Regions from separate parts of the Homo sapiens genome. Here region 1 is linked to region 2. Evidence: fine-mapped expression QTL. A gene starts in region 2. The other region holds a variant in brackets. All regions are shown on one strand. Distances are from middle to middle. Region 1 overlaps LRIT3 (leucine rich repeat, Ig-like and transmembrane domains 3). Region 2 holds the start of LRIT3 (leucine rich repeat, Ig-like and transmembrane domains 3).

What was found. PIP is the estimated chance that this variant, and not a neighbour inherited with it, causes the effect. A credible set is the group of variants that fine-mapping cannot tell apart.
Region 1: its variant is the best candidate, but not a certain one, in a credible set for the expression of LRIT3 in prefrontal cortex (BrainSeq, PIP 0.60).

What each region holds. Positions count from the first base shown.
Region 1 is chr4:109,860,593-109,872,629 of GRCh38, reverse strand. LRIT3 (leucine rich repeat, Ig-like and transmembrane domains 3) reads right to left here. Exons shown (of 4, transcript NM_198506.5): 3 at 4,684-4,989; 4 at 315-2,985. The coding sequence ends at 1,841. Among named protein-coding and RNA genes, the nearest start is that of LRIT3, 19 kb to the right of the region's middle. The variant A/TA (reference allele first, on the strand shown) is at 4,079.
Region 2 is chr4:109,840,205-109,857,109 of GRCh38, reverse strand. LRIT3 (leucine rich repeat, Ig-like and transmembrane domains 3) reads right to left here and starts at 9,003. Exons shown (of 4, transcript NM_198506.5): 1 at 8,793-9,003; 2 at 5,134-5,606. The coding sequence starts at 8,908. It overlaps RRH (retinal pigment epithelium-derived rhodopsin homolog), which reads right to left. Exons shown (of 7, transcript NM_006583.5): 6 at 14,463-14,641; 7 at 12,168-13,027. The coding sequence ends at 12,913.

The DNA.
Region 1 (12,037 bases), 18 kb before region 2:
AAATTTTACCTGGTGGTGACCTCCAAAACAGAGGCACAAAGTAAAGATAGAAGGCAGCAACACATGTGAAAACAGAACAAAAACTGCCAGACCCACTGTAGAGTGTTCCTCAGACCTCACCCAATCTCTCGATCAGAGCCAGGCCCTGGCCACTCTCCCTTGATCCTCCTGTAGAAATGGGTGTCATCACTCATTGGCTTACTCAAATTTCATCCTCACTGCTAGTTGTGTTCTGAGGTTTTGGGTGGTCCCAGCTAGCCAGCTTCACAAGGGTGATTTATCCCTGTCATCAAAGATGAGTCTTAGACACCATCTAATGCTCAAGTAGTTTATTCCAGCAGTGCTCTTACAAGACAGAAAGCAGGAGCTGGCTGGTGTCATAGGCCGGATATAGTCAGAGGTCAGATGACCAACTGACTAGGAGAGCTTCTATTTGAGGACCGTTCTCAGAGTTTGGGAGATCTTTCCCATTTCTTATACATGTATTCAGTCTGGGTCAATTACCAAGTGTTTCTTTCATAGAGCAAGTTTAATCTAGTAAGGTTAGGCTTTGTTCTAAAATTTATGAAAGTTGCATCTGTGCTGAGGTGGCCTTGTCTTCTGGAAATCCCTAGGCCAGGTTGCATCCTGCTAAGTGACATGTAATATCACCACTGTGAGATGCTTGAGTGGGCCTTATCGCTATCGTTAATCTTAAAGCCATGAGATGTTTCTTGTAGTATACTACAGTTATTAAAATATTCTCTTTCTAAAAAAACTAAATTTTATTTGTGAACTCCTTTCCTATGTATTTAAGTTCCCCGATGTTTTTAACCTAGGAAAAGAATCTAACCAAATGAATCCACTGAAGCTTCCCTTTTAAAGTCCTAAAATATCCTTTGGGGTTGTAAAACAGACTTTCAAAGGGCAGTAAGTAATTTCAAAAGCTTTCTCTTTATCAAGAGAATCAAAAGACAATATGGCAAAAGACAAACAGCTTGGCTCGTGATGCTTTGGCTACTTGTATATCTTCTGACAGAGCAGAAGAAAGAAAGAATGAAGGAAGGAAAGGGAGGGAAGACAAGGAAGGAAGAAAGAAGGGAGAACATAAGAGCAAACAGCAAAATATTAAAAGATTGATTTAAAGTTATTTTTAAATATCCATATAATCTGTCAGTCGATGTGTTTAAATGCAACAGTTACCATTTTTAAAGAAATGGTCTATTTGTCATAATCCTCTTTGTATACTTACTTTTGCTAATACCTATATTTCTAAAGAAAAGCAAAAATTTTTCTTACAAGAAATATGAACACAACTCTATAGTATCACAATGCATAATGGTACCAAGAGACAGAGCCCTCTCTCTCCCGTGAGTTAGATTTAACCTTAGTGAACACAAAATCCTTTATGATCCCACGCTCTCCATTAGGCAATGTCAGAAAACATCCACAGCAAATGCTATAATGCACTTCGAACATGAATAAACATCAAGGCTTAGCTGGTTTTGCTAATGTTTCCTCATGACTCAAAAAACTATATTTTTAAATACAGAGTTCACTTGCTACTTTCACATGAACTTATTTTTAAGAACTAAAACATTACCCTAAAAAGTATTAATAATTTATTAAGCACCACTCTAAAAATTATTTCTGTAGACCTTTTCCACACAAGAAAAAAAATCAACATTATTTGTCTTTTCAGTTCAGAGGTCTCATGGTATTTTTTAAACATACTTAAAAGCATTCCATTTGTGATTTTCATGTACAATGTGAAAGTCTGTCCAAAAGTCATCCAAACCTAGGGTCAATTATACCCTTAGATGCTAGTTTTGTAGCTCACATGCACCTGAGCTGCAGAACCTTAGCAATAATACTCTGGTCTGGAACCTTCACTTTTAAAAGTCACCTGAGATTCCACACTTGACCTAGAACAAAGCAGCAATTTCTCTGAGTCATCCCTGTGGCTTCGTGTCCAGAGCTCACCTACACTTTGAGACCTGGGAAACAGGGTCTCAAATTGGATATAAGTCTCCTTTGCCAAATCATCTTCCCAAAAAGGTTCTGATTTACATTGCAGTTTGCAAACTTTGTACAACAAGAAACAAATCAATGGTAAGATAACAACACAGGCAGTACTGGTCACCACGAGAAGGAGAGACCATTGAGAATCATCTCCTTCAACTCTTTCAGTAGAAAAGGTGATGCATTGGTCTTTCTGGGGAGGCACTCCTTTTGGACAGACACAGGCCATGTATTGCCCACCGGGTTCCAAGCCATCTATGGTTACTTGGTTCTTGCTGGAGTCTGCATTCAACAGCAGCAGGTCCTTCCCACCATACTTGGAATACAACACAGTCACTGCAGAGTTATGTGTGGTGTTGATCATATTCCACGTCAATGTCACACTCTCTTTAGTCTCACTGACCACCCTGAGGTTTTCTATTGCGGCATTTGTCTCCGTAAGCATTGTTTGATCCAACAATGCCAGCTCTTCTTTCTTACTTGTGCTGGCTGGAGGAAGCTTACTTCCATTCTTTGCCACCTTTAAATTTCTTTTCCCACCTTGGTGGAGCTGGAATGATCGCTTGTTGGCCATGGTGGTACTTGCTGAGATGCTTGTGCTCAGAGTTGTGGTTGAAGAAACAGTGGAGGAGGAGAAAGGAGATAAAGAGAAGGAAGCAGTAGAGGGAGGAGACAAAGTAGAAGCAGAAAAAGAAGATGTGGGGGAGAAGGAAGAGGACCAAAGATATGATGATGCGCTAGATACAGATGTAGATCTTCCAGATCCCGGCTGGACATCCCACTCAGGATGATCTCCAGTTCTTTCAGAAGTGTCTGGTGGTATTGGAGTTGTGGTAATGCCAAGCACTGTCACAGTAACCACAGCTTCTGACATCCCAGCCAGATTTTTGGCCTTACATTTGTAATCCCCAGCGTCTTTGGAAGAAATGCCTGTCAAGCTCATTATGGACCATCTGACTCCTTCCTCTGGAGATTCTTGTATTACTGGAAGAAAACAAATGTATAGTCTGTGAGGAACAAAAAGAAAATTCAAGCCACCATGCCAACTGAGGAGGAAACAACTATCCACTCTACATGCATCCTCTCACAGAAGCCAAGAGGGAAATGGCACCCTGCAAGTCTCTGACAGTGGGTGATAGTTCTGCAAACTGCTTACATCAAGGTCTAGGACCTGCCAGGTGTTGTGAGGTCTGTACAGGGAATAGTATTTTTAAAAGACAAAAGGCTGGGAATCAGGACACTTGGGTTTTAGAAACTTTTGCCCACTAAACAGTGTTTGGTTGTAGATAAGTCAATTCATATCTTTAGGCTTCTGTTTCTGCATTTATAAAATAAGAGGATGAGACGAAGTAATCTCAAAGGTCCCTTTCAATTTTAAGTCACTGTGATTCTATGGAATGTTTTTCATAAGATCTTACTTAAGTATTTCTTATTATATGTTTTCATGGTAATAAAATGCATATATCTCTATAGCCAGAGGTACAGCAGATCATTTTCTGGCATGGCAGAGTCATCATTTGTATTCCGAATAATTTATTTTATATTTAACTTAGGTAAACTGGCAAATCAAGGATTCTTTTGTTTGCAAATAACATATAGTTTTTTAAAAAATCAGAATTTTGCTATCCTAAACTCTGATATCTGGGTATATTTTCATTCTTCCTTGATTTCAGAAGCTTTTCAAAGAATAATAATAATGCGCAGAACAGTAGCCCAGTAGCCCAAAACTTAACTCACTAGCTGAAACTGTGGACCATTGACTACCTATATATAGGAACATTAGGCCTTAACTTCTTTATTTCCATCAGGTTTCATTATTTCAACCTGAATTTTAGTTTAATATTGAAGAGTTTTAAAAATATATCACTTTAATTGTCAGAATATCACTCTTGAAATTGGGCACAAAGCATACACATTGTCACACTAGGATCTGAAAAGTCTATATAATCAATATTTCTAAAAATTATACTTTTTGATTCATAATAAGGTGTCCATGTAATTTATTATTTAAATAATTATTCAAAAATGAGAGACTTGTACAAAAGCCCCCCGTCCTTTTTTTTTTTTTTTTTTTTTT[A/TA]AGACAGTCTTACTCTGCAGTGGTGCGATCTTAACTCACTGCAACCTCCACCCCCCAAATTCAAGCAATTCTCCTGCCTCAGCCTCCTGAGTAGCTGGGATTACAGGTGCACACTACCAAGCCCAGCTGATTTTTGTATTTTTAGTAGAGACGGAGTTTTGCCATGTTGGCCAGGCTGGTCTCAAACTCCTGACCTCAGGTGATCCACCCACCTCGGCCTCCCAAAGTGCTGGGATTACAGGTGTGAGCCACCGCACCCAACCAGCAAAAGGCCCTTTTTAAAAAATTGTAAAGGCTGTACATTTTGAAGTAAGCTGTATCCAAGTTGATGAAGCAAGACAAAGACCTTGTCTGCCATTGATCCATCCACTGCATTGTTTCATTCTACCTAAGAAAAAGAGTTTAGATTGTTTAATTTTATCTAGGTAGTTAGATAAACTGAGGAGAATACTAATGAATAAAATGTACCTTTAAAATCCCTTGCACCCAATAATCTTGAAATATTTTATTAGTGTTAACTAGCTAATTTCAAATCACACAACACATGATGTTAACTTCAAAGCTTAGTAAACTCCTTTGATCATGGGGCTGAATTAAGAAAATACCTGTATAATTAACTGGCGAGCTGTCAGATCTGGTCCATGTGATCTGTGGGGTGGGGAAGCCAGTGGCATCACACCGCAGTAGAACATTACTGCCCAGAGCAGACATGATTTTGGTGGCTGAGGTCATCACTGATGGTTTCAGACAATGCTCCAATTCAGCCCGCTGAAACAAAATTCCTGTGAGGCGCTCAGGTTCACTGCAAGTCATCAGTGGATCCAGAAGCACTATAGCAGGGTCAACGACCTTTGACAACTCAATCATTTTGGAAATATGACAGTCACAGAACCAAGGATTGTCCTGTAGACCTAAAACAGAAGGTGGGAAAGGTTGACAAAGATTATTCTGATGACTTCAGTTTACATCCTGCCTCTTGAGAAAGTAGGGATCTACACTGTCTCCCTATAAACAGAAGTGCTTTGAGGGATGAAGCAGAGTCACCTTTATGTCAGTTTTGCTCTGCAATCCAGCAATCTCGGTGAACATATCCTGTCCATTAGTTCAGATCATTAATAATCATGGCTAATACTTATTGAGCATTCACTCTGTGCTAGATTATGTACTAAGCACTTACCTGTATTATCACATGTAATCTCAATAATCCTATGAGAAAATGATATTATTATTCCTATGTTAAAGATGAAGCTCAGACTTCATCTATCCCTATGTTAAAGATGAGGCCTCAGAGGGACCCAATAACTTGGCCAAGGTCACAAAGCTAATTAGTGTCAGAGCCAAGACTTTAATCCAGGTACCATAGAATGCCATAATACAGTAATAAAGATCTTTCAAAGGTGCTATGAAAGTACTTACAGTATTGTAAGTATTATAGGGTGCTCAGAGACACCTAACTCAACCTGGAATAGGTTATGGTTTTATGTGATTTGAAGGTATATTGAGGTAATGCAAGCTTTGTGTGGCAAAAGATATAGAGTGAGATGCTGGCAATGGCAGTAGAGAAGTCTAGAAAGACTGGTGGAAGCAAGAACATGGCTTGGCATGAATGTCATATATGGTGACCATGAAGGTGACTTGCTCAATACTCCCTTCAAGAGAGAATCAGCTGCAAGCAATGCGGTTAGCGGACAGCTTCCAGTTGCAAGCATCTTCAGGATGTCTCACTTTCAGAATTGTTAGCAGAAGCCTTTGGGCCTTCAGGAAGGCTATCAGTGAGGGCTTGAAGAAAAGTGAGGAAAATGTTGCTGGAAACTAGAGGAAAGAGGATCCTTGCTACTGAGTAGCAAAAAGTTTAGCAGCACTGTCACCTGTGGTCCACATGGAAAATCAAAAACATACTCAATGCAATGTGGTCTACCTAAGGATAGTTCCACAAAGAGTATTGAAACTACTCCCTGGTGTGTTTTAGGTAATAAAATATAAAGGAGAGGCAACAGTTAAAGAAGAACTGTTAAATATAAAGGAATCGAAATTTGCTGAGTTCAATTAAAAAATTGTTTCTTATTCTCGGCCTCTCCAAAATTCTCAAATTAAGATAGAACTTCAGAGCAAACATCGAATCCAGGCGTGACTGTAAAATTTTGTGCTAAAATCTCAGAAGGATCTAAGATGGAGCTTTAGAGCATTCTGTCAGGCAAAAGTCTCTCTAGGATCTTAGGGGTGATGTTCCATAACAGCCTCATATAAAGCCCAAGATAGAAAAAAATTTGTCACAGAGATTTGTGGTTATAGCTTTTTACTAATGGAGTGGATTATAAATTGAGAAGAAAAGACGAAACTGCAATTTTACAAATTCTAACCATGCTGGAAATGTAACTGTTAGTTCATAAATTCTATATTTTTATTATACTTTTTAAAAATTATAATAGCAAGTCATGACTGGCTCGTATTTTTCTGCCAGGATTGGTAAAAGTTTACTTTTTCATCTCCTGTTTTAGAAGTATGCTTTTCTTCCATGGGTGAATAACTTTAAACTTTTCCTCTTATATTTAATCTTGTTAATCTATACCTAGTTATTGAATCAATATTAATTTGAATTCTATTCTCTTAACTGTTGGCTCTTTCATCCAATTTTATATGGTAAGCAGACTTTCTAGTTTATTTTATATTGCTATGATTAAGTGTGGCTCTGGAACCTAACGTCTGGGCTGAAATCTTGGTTCTGTCAAGCTTCACCCCCATGAGATATCTATAATAACAACCTCTCTCAGCCTCATCTATAGAATGCAGTAGTTCTTTCATAGAGTTGCATGAATTTTTAATTACATAATTCATGGAAATTACTTTGAACAATGGTTTATTCATAGTGACCTTTAACCTTTCTTGCTAAACATAGTACTTAAAATCTTTTGTAAAATATAGTCATTTCAATCTCTGAATAAGTAACAAATTTCATTCACACAAAACATATTCCCTATACTAGAGTCCATATTTTCTTGATCTTAACAAAAGAAACCAAATGTAATACAATCTGTATGTCTACTAAGAAAGAATTCAAAACAAGTACATAAGTAATGGTGGAGATATGATCTGATAGATACCAAAACACCTATAATAATGTAGTCAGTTCATAGACATTCAAAAACCCATTTCACCACCAGATACCACATTAGATATTCAGTCATTATTGTACGTATTAGTTGACCTGATATGTGAAGGCCAGATTTAAATATATGAAAGAGAAATTTTAAAAGTAATAGGAAATGACATTCTCACCAACTTTACTGTGCCTGGGTTCCTGATGAGGCTCAACCATTAGTTAATTCTGTGACCTGGGTGATGCAACCTTGCTGAGCCTGTTTTCTCATCGGCAAAATGGGAGAGTTGACTAGATAAATGCTAGAGCTTTTTACAGCCGTAACGTTCTATCAGCCTATAAAATAAAAATAATGATCATAGACTAAAAGAAACCAAAGATGGAACAACAAACTAACACTAAAATCCATCATCACTCAGTAAAAAGCAGAAGAATATGATAGAATGCCTAATTTGTAACATTTTTATCTCTATTGATTGAGGTGCTAAAGATAATCTGTGGATCTAGACTCTCCTAATAGTGCTATTTTTAAATCTTTCAAGTTTGTGACTTTTCTATGTCTACATTGATACACAGTTCAAATGTGAATATCATACAAAGTGAAGCCAGTTTATGAACTTTGACTACAATACAGACTAAAAGTAGTCAATTCTCCTTTTATAAACAATATAACTGATTTTACTTATTAAAATGGAGGGGAGGGGGAATCATGAACCTCTTCCAAAGGCTGAAATCCTTTCAGTAGTTTATTTTACTTTGTACATGTATTTTTCACATTAACCAGTTTTGCCTTATATACATGTAAATGTTATTATAAAGAACTAAATTTGGAATTAGATTGTTAGACTGTGACCCACACAGTTTAACAAATTAATCAGGTCAGTTTGTGTATAATGTGCCAATAACCTCTACAAAAAGTTATAAAAGATTAAAAATGTTGCTATCAGTTGGTATTGTCAGCATTGTGAGCTGTAGTTTGCAAGAAATCAATGAATAAATATATGGCTTGCCTCTCACAAATAATTAAATCTCAAAGTGAGGATCCAATCACATGTCTGCTCCCTGAGTGAAAGAGAAAACCAGCAAAGAGAAGAGCACAGGATGCAAACTGGCAAGTGTCCTCTAGGGCAAAGGGATGTTATCATAGTGCCTAAGAGGAGGAAAGGGGATATTTTAAGTTAGATAAAAACAATCAAAAGATTTAGAAAGGAACATGTAAACACCCACCTTAATATAGTAAGAATTCATAAATAGAATGATACTAAAACATTTATATTGAAATAAAAGGTTACTTATATTTTATATCTATAAATTTGTGTCAAAATTTATATATAAAAGCTATGCTCATCATAGCTATTTTATTATTTAATTTTAAGATTAATTTCTAAATCTGCCAGCACATCAAATTTATTCAGTTATATAATATGTATAGACTATTTCATAGTTTGAAAACACTTCAACTTATGCCAGATTTTTTTCTTTATGTAATACTACCAATGCAAGTTACAAGTTTTGATTGCTTCCTATGTGGCAAAGACCGTGCTTCTCCAAAACTGCAGAGGCTCTGAGATTTGACCCTACTTTAGGGTGACCAACCTATTCCAGTTTGCCAGCAACTCATTTCAGTTTGCCCAGGACTTTCTTGCTTTTAGCACTGAGAGGTCCACATTCTGGGAAACTTCTCAGATATGGGCAAGTTTGCCTGCCATCGTTTTATGGATGTTGGTAGAAGACACAAGACTCCTGCTCAGGGTTGAAGGAGCTCATTGCTCACAGCACTGAAGGGAGACATCTTTATTATACTGGGTAGTAAGCATGCTTACCCTTTGCTCTGGAAGGAGATATATTTCTACCTCCAAAGCTGTTCTCTTGAAAAGATAGTGCAGAATAAAAGGTAATCCTTGAAAAGATAGTGCAGAATAAAAGGTAATCAATGTCTGCCTCTGCTCACAAGACATGCAGAGATTCAGGAGATCAAAGAACAACGGCACTAAGCGTCTGAAGGATGGACTGACTCAATCCTCACAAAAGCATGGGATAGGTAGTACTATTATCATCCCCATTTTAAAGATGAGAAAACCAAGGTTCAGGAAGCTTAAGGAATCTGCCCAGGGTCACACAATTGGACAGCCAGGATTTGAACTTCAGTATCCTGATCTTAAACCACCATGCTGGTTAAAGGTTTTAACCACCCACCACAGTGGTTAAAGCTCTTAACCGCCATGTTATGCCTTCTACCACCTCTGGAATCTGGTATTATTCTTCCAGTTTTACACCAAAGGAAGCCAAAGCACAAAGATATTACTATCTTGACTTTGTAAATGGCTTAGAATCCTACATCCCAGATTTTTTTAGCATCCTAATCTAATACCCTTTCTATCATAACTCATCTCTTTGCCATCTAAAAACATTTAGAGTCATAGTGACAGTCATAAGCGCTATTATTTACAAATAAAAAAATGTCCAGGCACAATGGCTCACACCTGTAATCCCAACACTTTGTGAGGCTGAGGTGGGAAGATTGCTTGAGGTCAGGAGTTCAAGGCCAGCCTGTGCAACATGGCAAGATCCTGTCTCTACAAAAAATACAAAAATACAAAAATTAGCCAGGTATGGTGGCGGCACTTGCCTGTTGTCCCAGCTACCAGGAGGCTGAGTTGAGGGGATCAACTGAGCCCAGGAGTCATGGTTTGTGCCACTGCACTCCAGCCTGGGTGACAAAGTGAGATACTCTTTCAAAATAAAATAAAATTTAAAAATGTTAAAGCAGCAATATCTGGAGTATAAATGTTTACACAGGGAAAGATTTAAGAGCTATACAATGTTAACAATTTATTTCATGCTTTGAAATTATTAAAAAATGTATTAATGGTGAAAGAAAATTCTTTAAAAAATTAATTTCACTGGTTATATATAAAAGTTATGTAAATATTTTTAAATCCTTCAAAAATAAAATGTCTATTTACTCCAGCTTGAAACTTCTAAGGTCAAAGGTACAATTTTTAAAACCTGAATAAAAATAGTGATCCAAGAACTGAATATATTTAAGTGTTTTTTTCTTCTGAGGACAAAGGAAAGAGAACTCTCTCAAGTTAAACTGTTACTTGCACTGCATTCCTTCAAGGCAATACATCAACTACAATTACACTAATTTGCATTAATTAGTTTACTTTATATAACTATTCTTGGATGGGACAAGTGAACTTTATCCTTTCTAAAAGAATAGTATTTATATGCATCAGAATAGTTGGACTAAATGCGCTATTTTTGTGTGAAAAGTGAGCAATAAATTTTTGTACAAAAGTTATTCTGAGGACTATAAGCCCTTGAAGGCAAAGACTATGCCTACTCAGCTTTGTGGAGACAACCATGTTTAACAATTCAGTAGGGAAAGGAACGTCTTTTTAATGAATGGTGCTGGAACAAGTGGACACGTGTTTGCAAGCATATGAACCTCAACCCCTACTTTACACAATACTCCAAAACTATTTTGAGATGGATAATAGCTATAAGCCTAAGAGCTAAGAATATACAGCTAAAAATTGAGTATAAAGGCTAAAACTATAAGAAAATATCATATCTGTGATTTTGAGGTAGGCAAACATGTTTTAGATGATACACAGAAAGCACTAACTGTAAAAGGAAAAAACTAATGAATCAAATGTCATCAAAATGTAAACCTTTTTTTACTAAAGACACCAGGAAAAAATAAATAGGCAAGTCAGCCTTGGAGAAAATATTCACAGTGCATATAACAGACAAAAGACTTATATTCAATAAAGAAAAGACAAATAGCCCTTAAAAATTAAGCAAAAGATAGTTCATAAAGGAAGATATACAGTGACCCATAAGCAAATGAAAATCTGGCCAACACCATTAATAATCAGGGAAATGGAAATTAAAAACACATTGTGATACCGCTTCCTGACCCACCCACCCCCCAGAATAGCTGAAATGAAAAAGACCAACAACATTAAGTGTTGGTGAGGATATGGAGCAACCAGACTGTCATGCAGTGCTAGTGGGAATGTATAATGTTATACAGTCTCTTTGGAAAACAGGAAGTTTCCTTAAAAGTTATACATATAGCCATTCTTTTTCTCTTTTTTTTTTTTTCCACCCAGGATGTAGTGCAGTGACGTGATCTCAATTCACTGCAACATCTGCCTCCCAGGTTTCTCCTACCTCACCTGAGTAGCTGGGACTATAGGCATGCACCACCACACCTGGCTAATTTTTGTATTTTTTAGTAGAGGCAGGGTTTCGCCACATTGACCAGGCTGGTCTCAAACTCCTGACTAAAAGTGATCTGCCTGCCTTCGCCTCCCAAAGTGTTGGGATTACAGGAGTGAGCCATGGCCCCCAGCCATATAGCCATTCTATAATCCAGCAATTTCAATTCTAGGAATTTATCCAAGATAATGAAATGAAAACATGTGCCACAAAAAGCTTTGTACAAGAATGTTAATTGCAGCTTAATTTATTATGGCCCCAAACTCGAAACACCCATGTGTCCAACATCAGGAGAAAGGATGAACAATTGCTTCATTCATACAATTGAATACAATTTTGCAATAATGAACTACCAATACATGCGACAGCATGGATGATTTTCAAAAACATGATGCTGAGTGAAAGAAGCCTGGCACAAAGGTTCATCTTATATGATTCCATTTACATAACATTCTAGAGCAGGCACAATTAACCTATAGTGATGAAAATTCAAATAGGTGAGGCAAGATTGACTGGAAAGAAACACAGAACTTTCTGAGGTCATGGAAATATTCTGTATCTTGATGATGGTGTAAGTTATGTAAGGGTATACATTTATCAGAATTTAACAAACTGTAGACTTACAATCC
Region 2 (16,905 bases):
CTTGTATACTTGTATTGACTCATCCTTTAATCAATATCATAGTATTTTAATAGTCAGAGCCAGAGAAGGTAGTTGGCTCCCTGTAGCCTTACATAGGCCTTGGAAATCTTCCTCTTCTATCGATGTTATTAATAATATTCTAAAGAAAATTCTTAAAAGGAGTAAACGATTTATTTTTACATTAATTGCAGTAATAATGGGCTTGATTGCTGTTACGGTGACTGCTGCTACTGCTGGAGTTGCATTACATCAATCTATTCAAACTGCTCATTTTGCGGATAAATGGCAAAAAAATTCTATTTGAATGTGGAATTCTCAGTCAGGTATTGATCAAAAATTGGCCAATCAAATTAATGATCTAAGACAAACTATTATATGGATGGGAGATAGAATTAAGAGTTTAGAACACGGATTACAAATGCAATGTGATTGGAATATTTCTGATTTTTGTATAGCTCCGTTCCAATATAATGAGTCTGTTCACAATTGGGAATCAGTAAAACGCCATTTACAAGGAAGTGAAGATAATTTGAGTTTAGACATAAGCAAGCTAAAAGAAAAGATTTTTGAGGCCTCTCAAGCACACTTAACTTCTTTACCCAGTGATGAAGTTTTAGATGGTATCTCTGAGGGGTTATCTAATCTCAACCCCATTCAATGAGTAAAATCTTTGGGAGGATCCACTATCGGTAATTTTGTTCTGTGTATAATTTGTGCTATTGGTTTATTGTTCATGTGTAAAATTGGAAAAAATATTATTCAATCCAATCATGATCAGCGCCAAGCTATGATTGCTATGGTTCATTTAAATCAGAGAAAATGAGGAGATGTAGGGAGACCCCCTGAAACTATTGCTATGGAATAAAAGATGAAATGCTTCTGATAATTGTAAGTACAAAATTGCATGCAGGATTGTGTAAAGACAATGCCAGGTTGGACTGCCAGAATGAGCCAACAGTGTGTAATGTGCTTCCCCCTGCAGAGAGCCTATGAATGGATGTGCAGTCAGGGAGGTTTCACATCACCAAGATTCCTATCTCAGAAAAGCAGATGTTCATAATTCTGGGAATGGAATGCGACCCTTGTGGAGAGCCTATAAATGGATGCATGAGGGGTGCCTGTTCATATGGATAAGATAGGGCTATAAACGCCCTCATCTTGCCACAGCTCTTCTAGGCCTCTTTAGGGTGAAGGCATACAAACTGTCTCTCAGACTACAGTGCAATCAAACTAGAACTCAGGATTAAGAAACTCACTCAAAACCACTCAACTACATGGAAACTGGACAACCTGCTCCTTAATGACTACAGGGTACATAACAAAATGAAGGCAGAAATAAAGATGTTCTTTGAAACCAATGAGAACAAAGACAGAACATACCAGAATCTCTGGGACACATTTAAAGCAGTGTGTAGAGCGAAATTTATAGCACTACATGCCCACAAGAGAAAGCAGGAAAGATCTAAAATTGACACCCTAACATCACAATTAAAAGAACTAGAGAAGCAAGAGCAAACACATTCAAAAGCTAGCAGAAGGCAAGAAATTACTAAGATCAGAGCAGAACTGAAGGAGATAGAGACAGAAAAAACCCTTCAAAATATCAGTGAATCCAGGAGCTGGTTTTTTGAAAGGATCAACAAAATTGATAGACCGCTAGCAAGACTAATAAAGAAGAAAAGAGAGAAGAATCAAATAGACTCAATAAAAAATGATAAAGGGATATAACCACTGATCCCAAAGAAATACAAACTACCATCAGAGAATACTATAAACACCTCTACACAAATAAACTAGAAAATCTAGAAGAAATGGATAAATTCCTGGACACATACACCCTCCCAATACTAAACCAGGAAGAAGTTGAATCCCTGAATAGACAAATAACAAGTTCTGAAATTGAGGCAGTAATTAAATAGCCTACCAACCAAAAACAGCCCAGGACCAGATGGATTCACAGCTGAATTCTACCAGAGGTACCAGAGGTACAAAGAAAGAAAAAAAGAAAAACAGGAATTCATTTTATGAGGCCAGCATCATCCTGCTACCAAAACCTGGCAGAGACACCACAAAAAAAGAAAATTTCAGGCCAATATCCCTGATGAACATTGACATGAAAATCCTCAATAAAATACTGGAAAACTGAATCCAGCAGCACATCAAAAAGCTTATCCACCACAATCAAGTTGGCTTCATCCCTGGGATGCAACGCTTGTTCAACATATGCAAATCAATAAATGTAATCCATCACATAAACAGAACCAGTGACAAAAAGCACATGATTATCTCAATAGTCGCAGAAAAGGCCTTCTATAAAATTCAACACCCTTTCATGCTAAAAACTCTCAATAAACTAGGTATTGATGGAATGTATCTCAAAATAATATGAGCTATTTACGACAAACCCACAGCCAATATCATACTGAATGGGCAAAAGCTGGAAGCATTCCCTCTGAAAACCGGCACAAGACAAGGATGTCCTCTCTCACCACTCCTATTCAACACAGTATTGGAAGCTCTGGCCAGGGCAATCAGGCAAAAGAAATAAAGGGTATTCAAATAGGAAGAGAGGAAGTCAAATTGTCTCTGTTTGCAGATGACATGATTGTATATTTAGAAAACCCCATCATCTTAGCCAAAGCTGAAAAGCAACTTCAGCAAAGTCTCAGGATACAAAATCAATGTGCTAAAATCACAAGCATTTCTATACACCAATAATAGACAAACAGAGCCAAATCATGAGTGAATTCCCATTCACAATTGGTAAAAAGAGAATAAAATACCTAGGAATACAATTAACAAGGGATGTGAAGGATCTCTTTAAGGAGAACTAAAAACCACTGCTCAAGGAAATAAAAGAAGATATAAACAAATGGAAAAACATTCCATGCTCATGGATAGGAAGAATCAATATTGTGAAAATGGCCATACTGCCCAAAGTAATTTATAGATTCAATGCTAACCCCATCAAGCTACCATTGACTTTCTTCACAGAATTAGGAAAAACTACTACTTTAAATTTCATATGGGACCAAAAAAGAGCCCATATAGCCAAGACAGTCCTAAGCAAAAAACAAAGCTGGAGGCATCACGCTACCTGACTTCAAAATATACTACAAGGCTACAGTAACCAAAACAGCACAGTACTGATACCAAAACAGATATATAGACAAATGGAACAGAACAGAGGTCTCAGAAATAACACCACACATTTACAACCATCTGATCTTTGACAAACCTGACAAAACAAGCAATGGGGAAAGGATTCTCTATTTAATAAATGGGGTTGGGAAAACTGGCTAGCCATATGCAGAAAACTGAAACTGCACCCTTTCCTTACACCTTATTAACTCAAGATGGATTAAAGACTTAAATGTAAGACCTAAAATCATAAAAAACCCTAGAAGAAAACCTAGGCAATACCATTCAGGACATAGGCATGGGTAAAGACTTCATGACTAAAACACCAAAAAGCAATGGCAACAAAAGCCAAAATTGACAAATGGGATCTAATTAAACTAAAGAACTTCTGCACAGCAAAAGAAACTATCATCAAAGTGATGAACAGACAACCTACAGAATGGGAGAAAATGTTTGCAATCTATCCACCTGACAAAGGGATAATATCCAGAATCTACAAGGAACTTAAACAAATTTACAAGAAAAAAGAAAAACAAACAACTCCATCAAAAAGTGGGCAGAGGATATGAACAGACACTTCTCAAAAGAAGACATTTATGCAACCAACAAACATATGAAAAAAAAGCTCATCATCACTGGTTATTAGAGAAATGCAAATCAAAACCACAATGAGATGTAATCTCATGCCAGTTAGAATGGCGATCATTAAAAAGTCAGGAAACAACAGACGCTGGAGAGGATGTGGAGAAATAGGAACGTTTTTACACTGTTGGTGGGAGTATAAATTAGTTCAATCATTGTGGAAGACAGTGTGGCAATTCCTCAAGGACCTAGAACCAGAAATACCATTTGACCCAGCAATCTCATTACTGGGTATATACCCAAAGGATTATAAATCATTCTAGTATAAAGACACATGCACATGTATGTTTATTGCAGCACTATTCACAATAGCAAAGACTTCGAACCAAATGCCCATCAGTGATAGACTGCATAAAGAAAATGTGCCATGTACACACCATGGAATACTATGCAGCCATAAAAAGCATGAGTTCATGTCCTTTGCAGGGACATGAATGAAAGTGGAAACCATCATTCTCAGCAAACTAACACAGAAACAGAAAACCAAACACTGCATGTTCTCACTCATAAGTGGGAGTTGAAAAATGAGAACACATGGACACAGGGAGGGGAACATCACACACTGGGGCCTGTTGTGGGGTAGGGGTCTAGGGGAGGGATAGCATTAGGAGAAATACCTAATGTAGATGACAAGTTGATGGGTGCAGCAAGCCACCATGGCATGTTTATACCTATGTAACAAACCTACAAGTTCTGCACATAAAGTATAATAATAATAATAATAAAAAGAACCAGAGAAATACACATAGAACCTAAACAAGACCAAGTTCAAAATTCCAAAACTAGTCACAGCTAAACTAAGAGACCAAATCAGTTAGGAGAACCATTTGGGGCCAGTAAAATAACTGGTGTTTCCACCATTTCTTTTTAGATTAAGGAAATTTAGAAGCTATTCTTCCTAACTAATGAAGCCACTGCTATCGCATAAAGATGCCAGTGCCCCTCTCCTGCTCCTGAAGAACCTAATGAAGAGTTGAAAAGCAAACTGAGCAGAACTTTGTACCAGAGTATGGAGCAATGCTGTGCTCACAAGAGTCTATGCAGTTGGTTGATTCTGTCTCTCAGCTGGATGCTCTTTAAGAGAAATGGTCCTCTCTCCATTTATGATGCAAGTTCTTCTCCACTTTTCCACACATGTATGTACACACATGCATGCACACACACACAGCTCTTACACCTTACACAGGAGAAAGGGTAACTTGACCTAGGTTAACTAATAAGGTACTATTCCAGTAAAAGTGCAATTACAGAGTAAAAAGCCAAATCCAACAAATTTTAAAAGACTGGACAAAAAAAGCTATGCATAGCAAAGTAACTATAGATGAAAAGCCCAGAGGCTTGCGAGCTTACCAAGAATAATCCTGCTTGGGGAAAGGTCCAGGACTCCAGAAGGTGTTGAAACTAAATGAGTCCAGCTCTCCAGGAAATCTGGTGGCAATGTGGTGAGTCTGTTGCTTGATAAATCCAAGTAGGCAAGGTTCTTCAGATACCTGAGCGCCTCATTTGGCACACTGGTTATTTTGTTATTGTGCAAGTCCAGGGTCCTCAGAAGGGGCATGTCCAGCAGAGATGCCCAAGGGAAAGCAGCCAGAGAATTCCCATCCAAGCGCAACTCATGCAGTTGCTTCAGGTTGTAAAAGCTGCTGGGGTCAATGCTGGCCACGGAATTGTAAGTCACCCAGAGATACTGGAGCTCCACCAGGTAATAGAAGGCCTCCGCAGAGATTCTGCGGATGACAGTCTTCTCTATGCGAAGCTTCACAGTGTCCACGGGGAGGTTCGTAGGCAGCTCGTTCATATCCATGTCATTACATAGCACCAACCTAGTGTCACAACATGAACAATGTGAGGAAACTCACTTTCCAACACCCATTTGAAAAAAATACTTCTCATTTGAAAAATGTATCAATTTTCAGCTGGGCAGTGGCTCACGCCTGTAATCCCAGCACTTTGGGAGGCCGAGGAGGGCCTTGGTTCAAATCTAACCAAGGTCTAAGGTTTGCCACCTCCTCTGTGGCCATGGAAAACCACTTCACCAGTGTCTCAACCTCATTTTCCCATATGGCACTGTTATGGATGATTAATTACAATGGATGTAAAACTCTACAACTTCCTGGCACAGAATAGGTACTCAGTAGGTATTTGCTGCTACTGTCAACAACCTCGGTTTTACATGGAAAGTAACTGAGGCCCACCAACATTCAGTAACTTTCCAAGGTCACCCAGCTAGTGGGTTTCACAGCCACCTTTCAAAACCACTTCTGTCCAACTTAAAGTGCACCTCTTTAGGAAATGGCCCATTTTAAAAGAACCCCCTGTTAAAATAATAAATCAATCCTTGTTCAGAGAATAATTTATTTAGGTGAAAAAAAAAAGTGTTCACAGTACATGTTTAAAGTTGAACTCTGTTTTAATAACGTGACTTGCACATTGCTTTCTGCCTAAGGAATAAACCAGAAATTAGGAGTTGACCTTGAGCAAGTCACATTTTGATCTTGTTTGTTGGCACATATAAAACAGGCATAGAAAAACAACACTGGGCAATGTCCCAGCTGGGCAATGTGGCTCATGGCTGTAATCCCAGCACTTTGGGAGGTCAAGGTGGGCAGATCACCTGAGGTCAGATGTTTGAGACCAGCCTGGCCAACATGACGAAACCCCGACTCCACTAAAAATACAAAAATTAGCCAGGCGCGGTGGTAGGTACCTGTAATCCTACCTACTCAGGAGGCGGAGGTGGGAGAATCGCTTGAACCTGGGAGGCAGAGGTTGCAGTCAGCCAAGATCACGCCACTGCACTCCAGCCTGGGTGACAGAGCGAGACTCCATCTCAAAATAGAAAAGAAAGAAAGAAAGAAAGAAAGAAAGAAAGAAAGAAAGAAAGAAAGAAAGAAAGAAAGAAAGGAAGGAAGGAAGGAAGGAAGGAAGGAAGGAAGGAAGGAAGGAAGGAAGGAAGGAAGGAAGGAAGGAAGACAACACTGTCCCATGTGTAAATTTAAAGTATGAGGAATCTGAGAATTTAGATTCATTTTAGCCTGGAAAAAGACTTATCTCCTATGAGATACTCATCTGAATTATGAAAAATGAACAATAAGAAGTTTTGCAAAGTATCATCTAAATTATAGCACACTATAAATTTAGTAAATAATTACAATAAAATAACCCTTTAGTGAAACATATGACATTAAATCAGTGGATTTGAAAAACCAGCTCATAATGTATACACACGTAAGCAGCATAAAGCTGCAATGTAGTGGTAGTGTTATGTCCTTTCTATAACTTCAGGAAAAGACCTCATGGAATCTTTGAAATCCTCTAGGGATATCTCTTACTTTTCATCTCTATTTTATATCACAGATTTCAGTACTACTTTATACCAGAATGGTAGCAGTTTCTACTCATTAAGAAAGTATTGGCCGGGTGCGGTGGCTCACGCCTGTAATCCCAGCACTTTGGGAGGCCGAGGTGCGTGGATTACCTGAGGTCAGGAGTTTGAGACCAGCCTGGCCAACATGATGAAACCCCATCTCTACTAAAAATACAAAAACTAGCTGGGCATGGTGGCACACGCCTGTAATCCCAGCTCCTTGGGAGGCTGAGGCAGGAGAATTGCTTGAGCCCGGGAGATGGAGGTTGCAGTGAGCCGAGATTGTGCCACTGCACTCCAGCCTGGCTGACAAAGTGAGACTCTGTCTCAAAATAAATAAATAAATAAAATAAGTATCTCAGCATGCTATCATAGAAGAAAGTCTAGTTTGTACGCTAAAAGATCTAGCATCTTTATGAACTTAGTTACTACATCAACACAATTATATGATCTAGGACAAGTCATTTGGTCTCCATACAGTTTAGTTTCTTCACTTATAAACTGACAAGGGGTTGAACTAGATTATTTCTTGCCAGGCCTAATATTCTATAATTTTTATAAAATCCATCAATAATGGGGTCACCACAAAGAAGGAAACATTTCTGTGATAGTTTCTCAAAAGTACCCTGGCCTGATCCTTCACTGCTACACGTCCCTGGACAAGTAGGTCTTTAACTTGCTACATTCTCTTCATTGTCTTTAACCACCCAGTGAATATCTCAAAAAATACCAAGAATTGGTTAACTAAAGTTTATACAATAACAAGATAAGCTTTTCACAAATATGTCTTATTTATTATTATTTATTTGTTTAAAGTTATAAGACATAAATTGGGCAACTCTTTTAACAAATTATTTTATCTGAGACACCGTTTACTTCAACCAAGTCACAAATAACCTGATTTTGTTATTAAATAACCTCTCAAAAAAAAAATTCAAGTTCTACTGTGTTTAGCTAGCAAGAGTTCTGTTTTGCATTTAACATATCTAAAAGGCCTCATGCACAATATAAGTAAATAACTCTTCTCACTACACAAGTAGATGCTAAAGCAACCTAGAGATTGAATAACTTCTGTGAGATCCTGCAGTGTCTGAAACAGACAGTATCTTTTTCAATCTTCTTTATTTTGTAAATTCCATCAGCTTAAAATGAAAAATTCTAACTATTAACCTCTCTAACTTCACTCTTGAGATCTTTCTTTCTGCCATTCAATTGGCATGAATAGTTCTCAAAGGAAGTGGAGAGCCATGAAAGCAAAGGATCTGAGCATGTCACGCAGCTCCTGTTCAGCCTGCCCTCTTAGCCTTTCTATAATCAAGGGCTTAGCTGGCCATGCACCTTTAAATCGTTTGATCTCAAGCAACAATTTGTGAACATGAGCATAATAAAAATTTTGGAACATAGAATGTGTTTAGAAATTTCCAATACCTTGAGAGGCCTTTGAGAGTTAAACTGCTCAAAACGAAAACAGTGAAGGAGTAGGTGACCAGTGTTAAAACAATTAAGTTAAAGCTTATGGACACTAAACATTCTCTTCTGTGATTTCTGATCCCCAAACATTTGCTTTCAAAAGTAGGCTTTCTTGTTTGGGTCCTTTTTGTCAAAATAATGAGAACACTTAGTAACAAGCAGAGGAGCATACCTTGATCCTGAGCCGTCATTTCTGCCGTGATAATCACAGGTGCACTGTGAAGGACACAAACAGCCCACTCCTTCCAAAAAGCTAAGGACAATGCACAGACATGCAAAGAGATGCATTGCTCCTTTTAGAGGTTATTTAAACAAAAGGTAAAAACCGAATCCTAAGCATTCAGAACCTGGTATGCCTGGAATACAAACAGCCATTTAGTAACAGCAGATTACACGGGATTAGCTGAGATCTGTAGTTACTTAACCTTCAAGTGTATCTTGCAGGAGATCAATTGATCCAGCCTTTGAATACAGTTTCAGCAAAGTAACACATTCTAAGGAAAATGAAAATCAAACACATGACAAGCAATTTCAATAGTTACCCGTAACTAGATTTGCAAGAAAATGCCTATTAAATCCCTTTCTTCTGGATGTACTTGCCACTACACCTTAAAAATATACTTAATGTAAAATAATTCAGTCTTGGCAGATGCAAGAAAATTCTGTAGATTATTTACATGTTACAACATTATAAAATGTTTTGCATTTGGTTTTTGCCAGAATGTGTTACTAATTCAGTTTTACAAAATTTAGTTTTAAAAATAGAAGCACATGACATAAAAATGATTTAGAAAAGAGTTATCGATGTTGCCACATACTGGCTATCTCTAAAAGTAAAGTAAAACAAGTCAGTTACACAGATTTTATAGGGAAAATGCTTCAATCCACTACTGATGTGGCAGGACTAAGTTCTCCAATAAGAACGTGTTCTGAGACTCTTCCAGGTCATCTCAGTGTGTGGAAGGTTTATCCCAGCACATTTATTTTTAATGCAGGCAACTATCTCTGTTCAATAGTTTCCCAAGTTATCAGCATCAAAGCCATATTTGAAGATCAACTCTAATTCTTTCAGCTATATTAGGCTCTGTCAGAAAATAAAAATTAAATGTAATTAAATTTAAAAGTATCTCCACACTCATAGAGTGGAGAATCCACAGGGACAATCAAGGATTTAAGTAATAAATATACGTCATTTAACCTTCTTAGTGGCTGCTTCTAACCATCCTCTTTAACTAAAAACCTTTTTAAAAGAAAATTAATTCTATAAAAATAAGCATATTATAGAAAATGTTATTTAAAACCAATAGAATGTATATAAAAACCATACAGTCTGAAAAACTGTGCTCAATTAAAATAAAATACTGCAGGTTTTCAGATTCTGCACAACTCGTTTGTTCATCAAATATTTACTGAGTACTTATTCTCTGCTGAGCATTGAGGGGTACAAAGATAAATAAGACAGTTATTACACATAAGGAACTCACACGATAAAGGGAGGAACAGACTACTAAAGAAGCACGAGAAAAGAGCATCAAACCCAGCCTGTGTTAGTCAAGCAAGACTTCCTAGGGTGGGTGGTGCCTGGCTGCCTTTTACAGGGTGCATGACGATGTATTATGGGAAAATCCAGAAAGTTGCATTGCAAGCAAAGGGAATAGTGGGAACAAAGGGAGGGAAGTGAGAAACAGTGTATTGTCCTCAGAGAATTTCAAGCACTTCTTGTTGCTCAGGCATAAGATTTTGAGGCAGGAAGTTAAAAAAGATAAAGCTGGAGAGATAAGCGGGGATGAAGTTATCAAGGAAACCCTTAGATTCCCTATGGAGAGCTTACTCTCAGCCTACAGGCAATGGGAGCAATAAAAGTTAGGCTTGGGAGTGGCATATCAGCTTATCCTTTCAGGAAGAATTCTCTGGCGGCTGTGTGGAGAAAAGGTTTAGACAGAGCAAGCAAGAAGAAAGGAGGAAGCTTCTAGATAGAGCAAGCAAGAAGAAAGGAGGAGGCTTCAGGTGGATGTCTGTGGTTATAGTCCAGGTGAGCAGCCATTAGGCTACAGCCTTGACTGCTGTGCTAGTAATCGTTAGGATAATGCAGCTTCAGGAAACACCCAGGAGAGAGAAATGATTGATTAGACGTAAGGATGAAGAAGGGATTTAAAAACAACCCTAAGGTTTCCCAGTGCTGGAGATGCAGTGAGAGGTGGTGGCCTCGAGTTTTTGAGCACAAGAGGAAAAAGAAATTGGATGGGTAAAGCTCTGATCGCCAAGTGACCAAGGGTTTTTGAATCATTAATTTCATGGATGTTATGACTTACATGGAAGCAAGACGTGCCAAATTGAGCATAGAAACGCTGTTTAAAGATAAAAACATCAGAAATTAGCAAACTAAGAGGTCAGAGGGAACTATGTAACCAAAGCCAGGTCTTCCTAGTTTTATCATATAAGCAAATTAAAAAATAAATAATATAGCATTGAAATATAATTACTGTACACTGTTGAAGTCCTTTATATTTGAGGCAAAGTTGCTTCTTGCTTATCGCTGGAAATGAGTTCACAGCCTTGCAAATTGGAACTCTGAGTCCATTTTTCTAGACATTATTACAGAAGTTGTCCTGGCCTTTTAATGGCTCTGGGACTTTGGGTGCAGATTTCACTATGCTTTCCCTGTAAAAAGGCTCGGCTATGATAGACAGGATGAGCGAAGACCTAGTGACACAAAGCATTCAGAGCTCTCTCGGAACACTAGACATTTTAATTTGGCCATGAAGAGAGACAAAAAGCTGAAAAGTCCCTCTTGAAGTATGTTAAAGAGGGCCTTGAAAATCCAGCTGAGGGGTTTATACTTACTTGGTGGGTGAGTGAAGGTTTTTAGCCAAAGAATTTGGGCATTGGAACTTTATTTTTAAAAGATTAGCTATGAAATTGTATTGATTGAGGTTGTATTGTATGAATTGATTGCAGTGGGAAAGTCAGAGAGTTAGGAGATAAGGTAGATTACTATGACAGTTTACCTTTCCATATACGTAGAAGACTGTACACATAAAACTAATACCTGTATTTTACTTAATATGTAGCCAAAGGTGCTAAAGAGACAATTTATAGGAAGAAAAAATAGAGATTAAAAAATACAATATGCAAAGATACACAGCCTCACTAGCAGTTAAAGAAATGTGAAATAAAATGACTTTAAGTTAGAGTATATAACTCATAATTTAAATATATACAGGACTATGAGCAGGAATATGCAGTGAAAAGCTCACTTAGACACTGCCAGTATCAGTGAAAACTAATTCAATCTTTCCATAAAGCAAGCTAGCAAAAATAATAGTGTTTTTGTATTTGTATCCAGTATTTCTAGTCTGAAAAGAAACACTCAAATAGAATAACTTCTCCAAAAGAAAAAATATATTTGCACTGAAATATTTTCAGTGGTATATCCATGAAACTAAAAACTGGAAAGCAATTTAAATGTCTACTATTTAAACAATGGTATATTGTATTATGCTTAACAGTCATTTAGAATGACAAATATGTGAAGTCTACAAATTCATTTGACATTGAAAAAATATTTATTGAGTGCCTACTACATGCCAGACAGAATTGGGTATATGTGCTAAGGATACATCAAAGAACAAACATATAAAAATCTCCACTCTGATTGAAGTTAACTCTGTTGGCAAATATATGGAATATATATGCAGAAAAATGGTACTCAAAATTGCAGAAAACATCAAAATATGCACAGGGGTCATAATGCTATATAATATATATGCATTGACTTAACATTTTATTTAGAAACAATCATGTTTAATGTTCATTTATTTTTGTTTAATAACATAAGTTAATTGATTTAAATGTTAAAATGTTGAAATTCAAAAAATGCTTTCTATTCTAACTGGGAACATCCAACAACTCATTTCAGTAATTATCTAGAATTATTCATTTATTCTAACATTAAATTAGTGACTGCTTTTATTCTAATGGAGGAGCCAGGCAAGTTAAAGGTCATCAGTACAGTGTAATGCATGCCATAATAGGGAGAAAGAAAGGGGACCTTAACCTCTGATGCCTAATTCATCAAAGGAGATGAGCAATAAGTTGATATATCAGGACACAGAGAAGCATACACTACAGCAGCCAGAGTGCACAAACAGAAGCACGAGCTGTGCTTGAGGAGCTTACACTCTCATAGGACAATGATCCATGTCTGCACTTGATCTAAATGGGCTCATATTTAAAAGAAAAGCATTGTCAAAAAACTAAAGTGTTTTGATAGTGTGTCCTTTTATCTTATTTCAGATTCTTCCAGAAGCCAATGGGTTTTGAGATACATCCATGGGTAAAATACTTGTCACAGGCATTGTTTGGTGAGTCTGACATTTGAACATGGCAAGCATTGCCCTCCGAAACCTACGATAAAAAAAGGAAAATCTGGCATTAACCCATAATGATTTGGAACTTCTAAAGCATTTTCAAATATGGCTAAGATGCCACTACTGCCAATTTACATCTCTGGATAAATTTCTGCCTCCAACTTTAACATGTCCTGTTGAGAACCTTTATAAATATATAAAGTATATGGTACAGTTAAAGCCCATTTTGCACTATTGATTCTATAGATTTCCTGTTGAGAAACTTTATAAATATATAAGGTATATGGTACAGTTAAAGGTCAATTTTGCACTGTTGATTCTACAGATTGAAGACATCTACTAAAAGTAAATAATTATATGTATTTAAAAGGATGCTACTAATGTCAAGTGCCATGAGTTGTTTATTTGAACTAACAATGTGTATTTCATCCATCTGTTCTTCCTAGCAAGAATTTTCCAAAAGAACTACCAGCAGATTCTGAATTTAAAATGTGTTCTTCATTCTTCTTATGTGGTCTGTTTGGTCTGTAAAATTTTATGTTTCTTCACATACCTGTAGCTAAAGCTGCTTTTCCAAACATTGCCATTCCAGGATAAAATTACCTGACCTCGGCTGGACGCGGTGGCTCACGCCTGTAATCCCAGCGCTTTGGGAGGCCGAGGCGGGCGGATCACGAGGTCAGGAGTTCAAGACGAGCCTGGCCAAGATGGTGAAACCCCATCTCTACTAAAAATACAAAAATTAGCCGGGTGTGGTGGCGGGCACCTGTAATCCCAGCTACTCGGGAGGCTGAGGCAGGGAATTGCTTGAACCTGGAGGCAGAGGTTGCAGTGAGCTGAGATCACACCACTGCACTCCAGCCTGGGTGACAGAGAGAGACTCCGTCTAAACTTCACTGAGGAGGCAGAAAAGGAACATTTTGCTAAGAAACCCAAAAAAGAGAGGAGGTAAGAATTCTCTAGTATCCAGATGCCTTTTATGTTGGGACTAAACTTTTCCCTTGCATTTGAATGATATGTCTTATTTCTTGTAAATATACATCTGTGCTACCCACCAAGTGAGCCCAATGTTGCCTTGTCCATTTTCCAGTTATAGAATCCCTCTTTTCTTTGGAAACCACTATTCCATGTATTTGGGGTGGGGGTAACCATTTGAACTAAGCTGACCACTGACATCCCAGGCTCTTTTCTGCCAGAGAGCCATCTGAGATGCAATTGGCATTTGGGGATGCTTAGCTGGTAGAACTTGGGTCTGGGGTTGCCCACAATCATCTCTGCCACTGTGTGGGAAGAGTCTGTAACAAATCTGGAGCTCTAAGCATTTAAGGTCCTAGATGCTGCTCCAGTCACATGAGGCAAATGACCTTTATGCTAGATTGAAGTGGGTTTCTGTCACTTCTCTCCCAAGAAGTCTTAACATTCTTTTTATATCAGTTTTATTTTGTACTGCAAGCATTTTAGACATTACTTACTTTTTATTAGCAACCACATAAATGCAGGGGTTATAGAATGTAGAAGATTTTGCAAACAGTGGAGCTATGATGGCCATGGGGGGAGGAATCTTCTTTGGGTCACCAAAAGAAGCCCATAAGCACACGATGGAATAAGGGGACCATGCCACCAGAAACATGCAGATCATGATCACAGACATCTGAAAAGAAATAAATATTCACCAAGCCCAATACCTAAAATATTTAAATATTAATATATCTAAAGTTGGGTAAAAATCTATCTGGGTTGGAATTTGAATATGTTTATGTTTTTGATGACATAAAGGAAATAGTTGAGTTTTTTTTCTGCCTTCAATGTTCTTTTTTCAAGTGCCTGAAGTCCTCGATGATAATAAGACCTTGTGAAATGGGTATATCAAGAATATATAACATTGCTTTTAAGAATGGTACACACACATAAGGAATGCCCTCTTTCTTTCTGCGTGCTAGGGGAGAGTACAAAAGCTGACTTTGATGAAAGACAGATAAAAACCCACCCCACCCCACTTCACATCATTATGCTATGAACTCCTGGCATGGCTATTATTATTATTATCACCATCATTATTATTTGCTCTTACTGGGATTACCTGCTAAATTAACAAAAGTAACTTTCTAACTTTCTAAACTCAATCTGGAAACAAATACAATCCTATCTTGAGCTCAGTGAATTCTAACACAGGCCATTTCTGCTGGATATATGTTACACACAATGCAGACAATTTTGTAAAGGAGATCTCTTGCATCTTGTTTAAATGGAAAAATTATATTTTTATATTGCTTCCCTAGATTGCCTGCTAAAATTATGGAACAGAGGTTAAAGAAGACATAAAACCATAAGGACAGAGAATCAGAGATTAGATAATACATATTTTTAATGGAAAAAATGGCCATTGGATAAGTGGCAAATTATGTAAGAAACATGAGAATAATTTTATAAATAAGTAAATAAATAAACGTTAAAAAGAGCCAACTATGAGGGAAAACCAGATACAGACCAATCCATACTACAGAGCTACAGAAATTCTAGTAACAAAGGGTACCAGAAAACTCTAGATGTGGGGGTGCACATGGAGCTCAAAATAGAACTGGTTGAAATCTACAAAGAAAGTAGACTTCCAAATCTTTACCCCTGTCCACTCAGTCTACTCAGTAACTTCCCCTTCCTCTCCCTAGAAGACTTCCAGAGGCTCAGTATAAAGAAAAAAGAAGGCTAATTTGGGAAACTCAGAACACAGGGACACCAGGTTCAGCTAAGCACTTCAGTACTGTATTGAAAAGAGGGGTACCTGTATGCTGCTCCCTCCCTGCACTGAGTGTGAAAAAACTTGGAGATAGACTTGTGCCTCCCACCCAGGAACATGAAAGGAACTGATCTGCCCAGAATAAAATACCTAAAGATATAGTTACCTAGACAGTTAGAAATTCCCCCAAACCTCCATTCCATCATTTTAGCAGGCAATCAGGAGGGAGCAACATGAAAAATATAATTTTTCCATTTAAACAAGATACAAGAGAGCTCCTTTACAAAATTATCTGCATCATGTGTAATATATATCCAGCAGAAATGGCCTGTGCTAGAATTCACTGAGCTCAAGATAGGATTGTATTTGTTTCCAGATTGAGTTTGGAAGTTAGAAAAAAAATTTTTTTGATTAGCAGATAATCACAGTGAGAGCAAATAATAATAATGATGATGGTGGTCATAATAGTAATAATAACTACAGAGACAATTAGAAATTCCCCCAAAAGAAACATCTTGCTAATGAGCATCTCCATGCTTACAATCAACATTTTTAATGCATTACTCTTAAGTATGAAGGGACAATCACTGACCACCAGACATTAAGAAAACTTTTACATTGACAGGCAAAGAAAAAAAAAAAAACAGTGCAAGAACTCAGGGGAAACAAAAATATGTGGTAAACAGAAGGAAGTATAAATATATACATAATATCACAGAAATAACAGGAGATATACATCCATAAAACAAGGAGAGAATAGAGTATAAAATAGCTGTTTTATCAATAAAAATGGTTTTTAACTCAAGAAGAGAACCCAGGCAATACCATTCAGGACATAGGCACAGGCAAAGATTTCATGATGAAGATGCCAAAAGCAATTGCAACAGAAGCAAAAGTTGACAAATAGGATCTAATTAAACTAAAGAGCTTCTACACAGCAAAAGAAACTATAAACAGAGTAAACAGACAACCGACAGAATGGGAGAAAATTTTTGCAATCTGTGCATCTGACAAAGGTCTAATATCCAGCATCTACAAGGAACTTAAACAAATTTATAAGACAAAAACAAGCAACCCCATTAAAAAGTGGGCAAGGGACATGAACAGGCATTTCTCAAAAGAAGACATACATGCAGCCAAGAAACATGAAAAAAAAAAAGCTCATCACTGATCATGAGAGA